3 linked regions of the Homo sapiens genome follow. The protein of the gene in region 1 purifies or fractionates together with the protein of each later gene. This does not show direct contact. Each region holds a gene or a part of one and is shown on either strand. Other genes may lie near its edges. The genes, in order: RIBC1, CNOT7 and CNOT11.

Region 1 (3,109 bases):
GGATAAGGGTTATTTTGAAAGAAGAAGGAGTGAGGGAAAGGAAGGATTAAAGGATGTCTCCTAGGTTTTTGACCGGAGCAACTTGGTGAATGGTGGTGCCACTTACTGAAATAAGGAAAACTGAATAGAGTATAATGAAAAAGGAGTGTTGTAGATGTGTTTGAGGCTTAGAAAGGTGAGCAGGGGTCAGATCATGAAGAACCTTATAAATCTGGCAAAGGGGGTTGGGCCTTATAAGCACTGGGGAGCCATTGCTTTAAAGGTGCTTTCAAAGGCTTTACGCTGAGGAGTGCCATGGTCAGATTTGCTTCCCAAAGATCACTCTGGTAGCCAGTGCAGAGAAATCCAGTGCAGAGAGGGTAACGTTGGAGCAAGAGAACCCAGTGGGGCTCCTGAGATACTGCCTGACACCAGATTGTGAGGCCTGAATTAAGCTGGTGACAGCAGAGATGGAGGGCACAGATACGAAATATATCAGGAAGTAAAATCAGTAGGAATCAATAACTGCTGAAATATTATAGGGAGAAAGGAATGGGGGTGGCGTGTAGTCAAAGACGGTGGTCGGCACTGATGGGCCATTCCACCTCCCTTTTGCTCCAGATGTATAACATAAAACAGTCAACAGATACCAAGGAAGCAGCAGCCATCGAGGCTAGAAGAAATCGAGAAAAAGAGCGACAAAACCGATTCTTCAATGTGCGGAACCGAGTCATGGGGGTGAGTGGGTAGTAGGGACTGTTGCTCAGGATCAGGGCCACCTCACTCTTACACCTGGAGAGGAATGTGTAACAGTGCCCATGATAGCCCTTCCCCTGATTCAAGTAGGCCCCTAGGGCAGGAAAGGAAAGAGAGGGAGAGAAGGCACCCACCCCTACAGGCCTGGGAAGAGCTTGGGAAGAGGGATAGGTCAGTGCAGGGGAAGAGACTAGGGGAGACGGCTGACCCTTCTCCAGTCAGCTCTGGGCCATGTGACCTGGTTCTTGAGACAGGCAACATGGAGCTAAAAGAGGCCTAAAGAATATTTGGAGTCCGGGTGCAGTGGCTTACACCTGTAATCCCAGCACTTTAGGAGGCTGAGGTGAGCAGATCACACAAGGTCAGGAGTTAAAGACCAGCCTGGCCAACGTGGTGAAACCCTGTCTCTACTGAAAATACAAAAATTAGCTGGGCGTGGTTGTGCATGCCTATAATCCCAGCTACTTGGGAGGCTGAAGCACAAGAATCACTTGAATCCAGGAGGAGCAGGTTACAGTGAGCCGAGATCACACCATTGCACTCCAGCCTGAGCAACAGTGAGACCCTGTCTCAAAATTACTGCATATACCTAAACTATCTCTGCAAGGCTATGTTGAGAAACTTAACCAGGCTGAGAGACAGAGATGGAAGGGACACTTACGCCTCACTAAACTGTATTCCTTTTTGTATGATTTTGAAATGTGATAAATGAATTATAATAAAAGAGAAAATATTGATAGTTTAAGAAACAAAAGATTGCTAGGTGAGTGGATAGAGGGGGGATGCAGCATGGTATTCTGGAAAAGACCCCGTAAGTATTTAAGGCCAGGTCTGCTGACTGTTATGTGTGTGGCTTTGGATAAATCACCTGTCTTCTCTGAGCCCCAGGCTCCTCTTCTGTAAAATGAGGCTGAAGGAAGTCAGGTGAGTGTTAACACAGAGTGGCAGCTTTGAAAACCAGTGCATAGTGCCTGCCGTAAGAAGTTGGCTAGGGTATTAGTGTTCTGATTGAGATCCAGCTGACAAGCTGACAAGCATTTCCTCGGGGCCTGCTCTGTGCCAAGCACTGTGTTGGGCAGTGGGGATACGAAAATGACTAAGGCCCAGTTTCTGCCCTGAAAGGGTTCACAGTCTGGTGGAGGAGAGAATACAGAGAGGCGAACATCAATATAATGTAGACAGTGGGTTCTAGATTCTACAGGAGTAGAACCTGCCTGAGGGGTCAGGAAAGTGAAGGCTGAGCTGGTCTCGAAGGACAAATTGGAATTTGTGTAAAGAGGGGAGGAAAGTGTTCCAAGTGGAGGGAGCAGCTTGAGCAAAGGCTATTGGTTCAAAACAGCCTAAGATATTCAGGGAACTGTAAGCACAGCTCATAAGGGTAAGGTGGGACTAAGAGATGAGGCCAGAGAAGGAGGCAGAGGCTAGACCATGGAGAGGCTTACAAACCATGCTCAGGAGCTAGAACTTTATCCAGTAGGTACTGGGGAGCTACAGGATTCTGAAACAGGTAAATTCTAATTAGTTTGTGGTAGGACATTGAAGGCCCCCTGCTGGGCCCCTACTCTGATTGTGCTCCTTTCTTTGGGATCAGGTGGATGTCCAGGCCCTGAACAACCAGGTGGGAGACCGAAAGCGTCGGGAAGCAGCAGAAAGAAGCAAGGAGGCAGCTTATGGTAAAAGCCAAAAGCCAGGGGCCAGACAAGGGTGTAAAGAAAGAGCTCGAGTGGGCTGAGGTAGGGCAGTTCTGCCTCTGTGGCCTGAGGCCCTGGGGTGGTGGGACAAATTGGATGGACCTTGAGAGTAGAGGACATGCTAAGTGGACTCTGTCCCTCCTGGGGTATCTTCTCCATATCCTTGCTCACCACCCCCAGGTACCAGCCAGGTGCAGTATGATGTGGTAGTCCAGATGTTAGAGAAGGAAGAGGCAGATCGAACACGTCAGCTGGCCAAGAAAGTCCAGGAGTTTCGGGAGCAGAAGCAGCAGCTCAAGAACGGGCGTGAATTTAGTCTTTGGGATCCAGGCCAAGTCTGGAAGGGGCTTCCAACCTATCTTAGTTACAGTAATACCTATCCTGGTCCAGCCAGCCTGCAGTACTTCTCTGGGGAAGACCTAGACAGGGACACACGGCTGAGAATGCAGCAGGGGCAGTTCAGGTACAACTTGGAAAGGCAACAGCAGGAGCAACAGCAAGCCAAGGTTGATGAGAATTATACAGGTAAGCAGCCCGGCCCTCCAGACTCAGAGACCTGAGGCCTAGTGGGGATCTGTCCTAAGCTGAGTACAGCAGCCAGGGGACCAGAACTGTGTGGGGAGGTCCACTTATCCATAGGGTTGGTGCTGAAATGTTAGGTTGTGCAGACCCCAACCTCCCTG
Region 2 (2,934 bases), on another chromosome or scaffold:
GAAAAAAAGTTTATTTGGTCAAATTTTAAGGCTTGTGAAAACGTAAGTTGTTTAAAGCCTGTAGTTACTCACTTGATTATTCATCAGCAGGTACTTCACAGGAAATATTGGTGTTACTGAACTGGTCAACAGTTAACTTCATTTGCTCTTGTGGACTTAACCATCTTCAGTTCCATGATTTTTTTTTTTTTGTGAGAAACAGAAGCTGAATATCCTGATTTGATTTGCCACACAGGCGTTCAATGGCTTAGCAGTGCTAAAGATTTATTTTTATTTTTTTGGGCTCTGGGCTGACATTGAAATTTTTCTGAATGAGAAAAACCATCCTCAACCACTGTTTTTTAACACTGAGTAACTTTGGAAATTAACTTTTGCCACAGACTTGAAAATGTTTCTTAATGAATTTGACCTGAAATTACAAGGTACAACAACATAATATGGTAAATTCATTTCAATAAAAACTAAAACTTAAGATTGTCAAGCTGCTTTATATACTTTCTGTGCTATGAGAAGTCAAAACAGCGCTGTATTGCCAAATCCATTTTTAGTGGATATATTTTCCTGTAGCAGTTTTTTGGACCTTGATGCAGTGCAAAGAAAATTTTTAAATTTTAAAAGCATTTAACTGCAATTAAATGCTTTTAAAGTTTCCTCTTAATCTTCTGTTGGAAATGAATCATCTTGAATGAATGACATGCTAAAGGGCAAATACCAAAAAGATGAATCCTACAAATGCCTTACAAGTGATGAATATGCTTAACTAAAATCACATGCTCATGGGTGGATGTGTCAGTATTTAGCAGTACCTTGACCTGTTTGTGTGAAAAGACATTTTCAAAGATGAAATACGTGAAATCCCATTACACATCAGCATTAACAGATTAACATTTTCTATTTATTCCAATGAGGGGATACCAACTTTCAGCCCAAATTGAGCAAAATGTTACCTCCCGTCCCCTGCCAAAAAATCCCATTATTCCCATTAGTAGAACTCTATTACTAAAAAAAGAAAAAAAAATTGTACTCAATATTTTGAGTTTTCAATTTTTAGAATAAAAATTTGGTGAAAAGTTTCCTTGAGTACCTAAATAATGTCCTTCATTTTGTCTTAGCTTGCAAAGCCTCTAATATTTGCTACCTGCCCTTTTCAAAAAAAAAAAAAAAAAAAAAAAAAAGGCTTGTCCACCTCTCTACTAGAAGAAACTCAAGGGTCTATGTCTGTCCTGTTTGCTATTTCATCTGCATTGCCAAATGCAGTGGCTCCTCTGGGTAGGCAACCTGAGGTGGAATCAAATTATGAATGCATATGTTATCTCATGTCTATAAAATAAATGTGTTAGAATTTATAAATAAAGGGATAGGAAAAATGCTGATTATTCTGTGTGTCGGTGCTTTGTAGTGAAGGCCAGTTCACACATGCCATTTGCTATGTTGGTGTAATTTATATGAGAGTTTCTTTTATAACAACGTTACCTGTCATTTATTTTTCTATTAAGACATTATAGAAACGTAGGACTGTACACATCCAAATCCTGCAGAATTTTCATTTCAGGTTTTGAAAGTTAAAAAAATGTCACCATAGAATGAAAATTCCAAGAAAACAAGATTCATGTACATTATCACTAGACAATTTCCATTTGTTTTAAACAGTTTTCTACAGCATTAGTTACATTTAACGTTTAGTATAAAAGCAATTGAGCAATTTCTCTTTAGAAGTCCATTTCATTGCTTTGTAGCCATAGTCTGTAGGTGAATGAACAAGCTACATTTCTCCAGAATTACTCATTTTCTTTTTAAAGATAAACTGGTCAATACTCTCCTTCCTGGTATGGAGGAATTTTTTGTATATGAGAAGCATTCATGAATATAATCTGCCCTCTTGCTTTATTGTCATAGGAGGGGAAATTCACTGCTTTCACACCCTTCTGTTTTGGCTCTTTCTCCCAAAAGATAAGAATCTTTATTTAGTATCATACCAAGAAATTGGAGTTCCTTTAGCTTCAGACTATCATCATGGCTTCCAAATTGTTAGGAAATACAAGTTTGCAAGACCCCAAGGGGACTTAATATTTTACATCTTACTAGCCATGTCATAGGTTTTAAGTGCTTTTAATGGGGAACTGTTTCACTCATGCCATATACCTGTTTTGTTTTTCTAAAAAATTAATACTGTAAGTTGTGAGCAGGTGTCTTGTATCACTGCGAAACCCATGCATAATAAAAACTTGTTCTTGAGCTATATGTGTGTATACAGACTTTCCTTCCATTCATTGTAGCCATTCTGGGGCTGTCCTCTACTTCTTGCCTAAGTATATGTTTTTTAAATAACTTTAGCACATTTGCATGCTACTCCAAGATGAGTTTATAATTAAGGTTGCTTTTTAAAGTATTCAGCTTTCACACAATAAGTGTTTGATTAGTTCATTTAAGATGTTTTCAATTAGGGAGCCATACATACTGACAGAAAAAGACACAAAATCTAAACTGACAAAATAGCCTTGCTCTCATAACTGAGAAAAATACAACAGGAGAACTGACGCATTCTGTAGTATCTTTTTAAATTCAGAATCAACGGAATTTTACCTTGAAGCATTATGCGTTTTTTTTTCAATTGATTAAGCACCTTTATCAATCAAACAGAAGCAATATATTAAGCATTAATAATTTCAGGTAGGATTCAGCTCCTTGTACTGTTAAACCTTCCCCGGAAGATGCAACATAAATCATAGGTTTTCATAAACCATAAAGTAGTACTATTTTTCCTGAGCAAAAGGGAACTAGCCATAAACCAGGGCTTAAAATAACTTATTAAAAGTTTCCCTTTGGTTTAATTGCTACTCAAATCACTCAGATGATTAGCCTTAACAGACATTTTCCCCCAATTGTAAACAATACAGAAATACTGAATACTGGCTATGAACATCAAAAAGATCT
Region 3 (3,500 bases), on another chromosome or scaffold:
AAATACTGTCTGGTTGTAACAATGTCAAGTCCTTTGCAGGTTTTTTTTTTCTGTCATCTGTTGTAACTAAAAATAATCTTAATGACCAACTAGTTCTCCCAAGAAACAGTCCTGCCCCACCCCACCCAGGTGGAGACCAGAAATACCTGAGAAGGGGGCGGAGTGGGAAGCCGGAGCGGGAATCCGGACAGCTGACCTGCTGCGAGTCATCAGTCTGCAGAACTTTACAGTTCAAGTCACACCCACACTTTGTAATTCAAACAGGTATCCTCAAAGGACTTTTTCTATGAAGTAAGCACTTCCTCTTTAAATGTCCTATGCTTTTTTTCCCCCGTCTACTTAATATGTTCCACAGTGGACTGTGTTTTCAGGATGGTCTTGCGAGCAAAGCGAACTACAAACGTTGCTATTATTTCGTTTTGAAAATGATATTTTTGGTGGCAAACGTGATAGGAGAGGTCATCTCCTAAAAAGTTCTAACTCAAAAGTGTGCAAACTGGATAAAATTCACCAACCAATAGAAGAGTGGCCTTGCCTTTCCTGAGGAGAGTCATCCAGTCTCACACTCGGGCAGTGGGGGCTACTTTAATCTCAAATACACCACGATCCAGCTGTGTGATGGGGGCGGGTTCCCCTTCCCAGCCTTGTTTTCCTCCCTACAGCCTGTCAGTAACTCCACTTTCCATCAGAAGCGTTACCATCAGCTCAAACGTAACCATTGTGTAGTGTCCCACTGTACACAGCAGTGACACCCCCACTACCCCACCTCTCCCAGGGACAAACATCACAAAGAAAAGTTAGAACATTTTTGCCATCAGACTTCTTGCCCCACCACAGCAAAATTACCAAAGAGTAGAACAAAGCTTCAGAGACCCAAAAACCTTTGCAACTTCCTACTGCTCACTCACAGTGACAGGATTAGTTTATTGCTTACCACTTTCCAAAAAAAAAATAAACTCTTGTTGGATTAAAGATAAGAAAATGCTCACAATGGCTGGGTACAGTGGCTCACACCTGTAATCCCAGCACTTTGGAAGGCCAAGGTTGGCAGATCACTTGAAGCCACCAGACCAGCCTGGCCAACAATGGCAAAACCCCATCTCATAAAAATACAAAAATTAGCCGGGCATGGTGGTGCATGCCTGTAGTCTCAGCTGCTGGGGGCGCTGAGGCACGAGTATCACTTGAACCCGGGAGGCAGAGGCTGCAGTGAGCCGAGATCGTGCCACTGCACTCCACCCTGGGCAGCCGAGTGAGACTCTGTCTCAAAAACAAATTTTTTTAATTAAAAATAAATTTAAAAAAAAAGATAAGAAAATGCTTACAATCAATACACACCTGTGTTTGTTGGGGAGAGGATAAGGGGCTTTTGAAGGCTTTGGCCATTATTCGTTTGATCTCCACACCAGTGCTATTCTTAACACACATCGATTTATCCCACTGGATCGCGTGGTCAGGCTCCGTGGGGTTTAGCCAAGCAAGTTCATCCTCACAAATGTGGAGTGGAGGCGGTGGACGAATAAACTCTGGTCGAAAATGGCCTGTAATGAGAGCCGTGATAGTTGCTCCTATCAGGAAGCTAACATCTCTACACATCTCACACATTTCACTTAATAAAGTATGCAAAGAAATCTCTTAATAAGGATGATGTGACTAGAACTCTCATACTTCAAAATCAGAAGCAGGAATGACACAGGAAGTCAGGGTTTCAGTCAGAATGCAAACAAGACAATGAAAGAACACTATGCCAGCATGATGCCAGAGAACAATCTATTCGCTTTGCAGAAGTGAGGAAAGCCTGGCCGTGATCTGCCCATGCTGCACTTGAGCATGGCCACTCAACAGCAAAAGGGCACGACTCCTAAACGGGTGAAGTCTTTTGATGAAAAAATGAAATACTATGCCCTCACACATCCTATTCTTAGTTACCACTATTTGTTCAGCTGCCACTATGATTTGTACTAGTTTTATCTTTGCATCTTATAACTGAAGTAACAAATTACGTGGCGATGAAGCAGCAGGAGGAAAAGTATGGTTGCCTTTTGATATTTCGAAACGAATGTGGAAACCGTCACGAATCCCTAAATTCACAAATACTATATTCATTTTCAGAAAACAATAGAAGTACAAAAGGAAAATGAAGTGGTTCAACTCAACTATTTTATAAAACAAGATTCATCCCTGAGTTACAAACCCACTGAAATAAATGCTGGCTAGGACTTCTGCTGAACCAATTTCACATCTCACATAGTTTCCACATAGGGCAGGAGTGGCTTATTCCTGTCATGGATCCTAGCCCTGCCAAATTTGAGAGTCTACTGTTGAGTTTACAGAAAATATTTTTTAGTTAAAAATCATCACTTTATCTTAAACATCTCCACTGCCTCTTCACTTACCTCACCAGGACTAGCATCTGAATCTCCCTTCAACCACTTACAAAAATAAAGTTTTTAACAATTTATGAGAAATACTACTTATGTGATAGAGAGTTCTTGCGAGGTGGGGACACCTGGTGTTTGGCTAGACCCACTTATTATGAGTGATCTGCTTTTCATATATCTTCCTGGTGACCTATGCAATTTAGAGTTCTGCCCGAGCAAATATTTAAAAGAAGCCATTACATGCCATGGACATTTCAGTCACACTTGTGACCAGCAGAAACTTCAAATATTAAACCTATGTATGTCAAAGATCTACTGTAAACCAAATGGTACAAAAGTCACTGTGTGAACTTCAAACTCATGGTGATACTACACTATCATCTGGTAAACATGTTCTCATCCCAAAGCAGAAAGCTTGCCTTCATAATTCAAAGCACACAGAAGCCTATAAAACAGATGCCAGGTAGAGTGGTGCATGCCTGTAATTCCAACTATGTGGGAGTCTGAGGTAGGAGGATCCCCTGAGCCTCAAGGGATTGAGTCCAGCCTGGGCATCATAGCAAGATTCCATCTCTTAAAGAAATCCCCAAAAAATGCAGCTATATTATTTCAAATTCTACAAGTGTTTTCTTTGAATTAAAGTAAATTAGGAGTTTATAAGAAAAACTTTAAAATGGAAAAGGAAATGATAGCAATAAGAAGATTTAACAGGTATAAAACAAAAAGATAATGAGCTGCTACAAAAAGACTCATTTCAGTAAAATGAGAATCTGTATTTTTTTTTTTTCCTTTTTGAGACAGAATCTCACTCTGTCACCCAGGCTGGAGTGCAGTGGTTCGATCTCGGCTCCTGCAACTTCTGCCTCAGCAATTCTCCTGACTCAGCCTCCCAAGTAGCTGGGACTACAGATGCATGCCACTACACTCGGCTAATTTTTTATTTTTAGTAGAGATGGGGTTTCACCATGTTGGCCAGGCTGCTCTAGAACTCCTGACCTCAAGTTATCCACCTGCCTCGGCCTCCCAAAATGCTGGGATTGCAGGTGTGAGCCACTGCGCCCAGCCTGTATCTTTAGGTATGCATAGGATAGACATGCAACAAACAACTTGGCATGCATT

Evidence for each region.
Region 2: the proteins of RIBC1 (region 1) and CNOT7 purify together in Homo sapiens (co-immunoprecipitation; 3 studies listed by BioGRID and IntAct, with this or other methods). This does not show direct contact.
Region 3: the proteins of RIBC1 (region 1) and CNOT11 purify together in Homo sapiens (co-immunoprecipitation; 3 studies listed by BioGRID and IntAct, with this or other methods). This does not show direct contact.

What each region holds. Positions count from the first base shown.
Region 1 is NC_000023.11:53,425,677-53,428,785, forward strand, and holds part of RIBC1 (RIB43A-like with coiled-coils protein 1), read left to right. Parts: intron 1-600; coding exon 601-717; intron 718-2,326; coding exon 2,327-2,408; intron 2,409-2,606; coding exon 2,607-2,951; coding exon of another isoform or gene 2,952-2,986; exon of another isoform or gene 2,987-3,109.
Region 2 is NC_000008.11:17,224,271-17,227,204, reverse strand, and holds the end of CNOT7 (CCR4-NOT transcription complex subunit 7), read left to right. Parts: 3' UTR 1-2,239; downstream 2,240-2,934. UniProt on the Homo sapiens protein: Has 3'-5' poly(A) exoribonuclease activity for synthetic poly(A) RNA substrate. Its function seems to be partially redundant with that of CNOT8.
Region 3 is NC_000002.12:101,262,886-101,266,385, reverse strand, and holds part of CNOT11 (CCR4-NOT transcription complex subunit 11), read right to left. Parts: intron 1,542-3,500; coding exon 1,339-1,541; intron 265-1,338; exon of another isoform or gene 1-264. UniProt on the Homo sapiens protein: Component of the CCR4-NOT complex which is one of the major cellular mRNA deadenylases and is linked to various cellular processes including bulk mRNA degradation, miRNA-mediated repression, translational repression during translational initiation and general transcription regulation.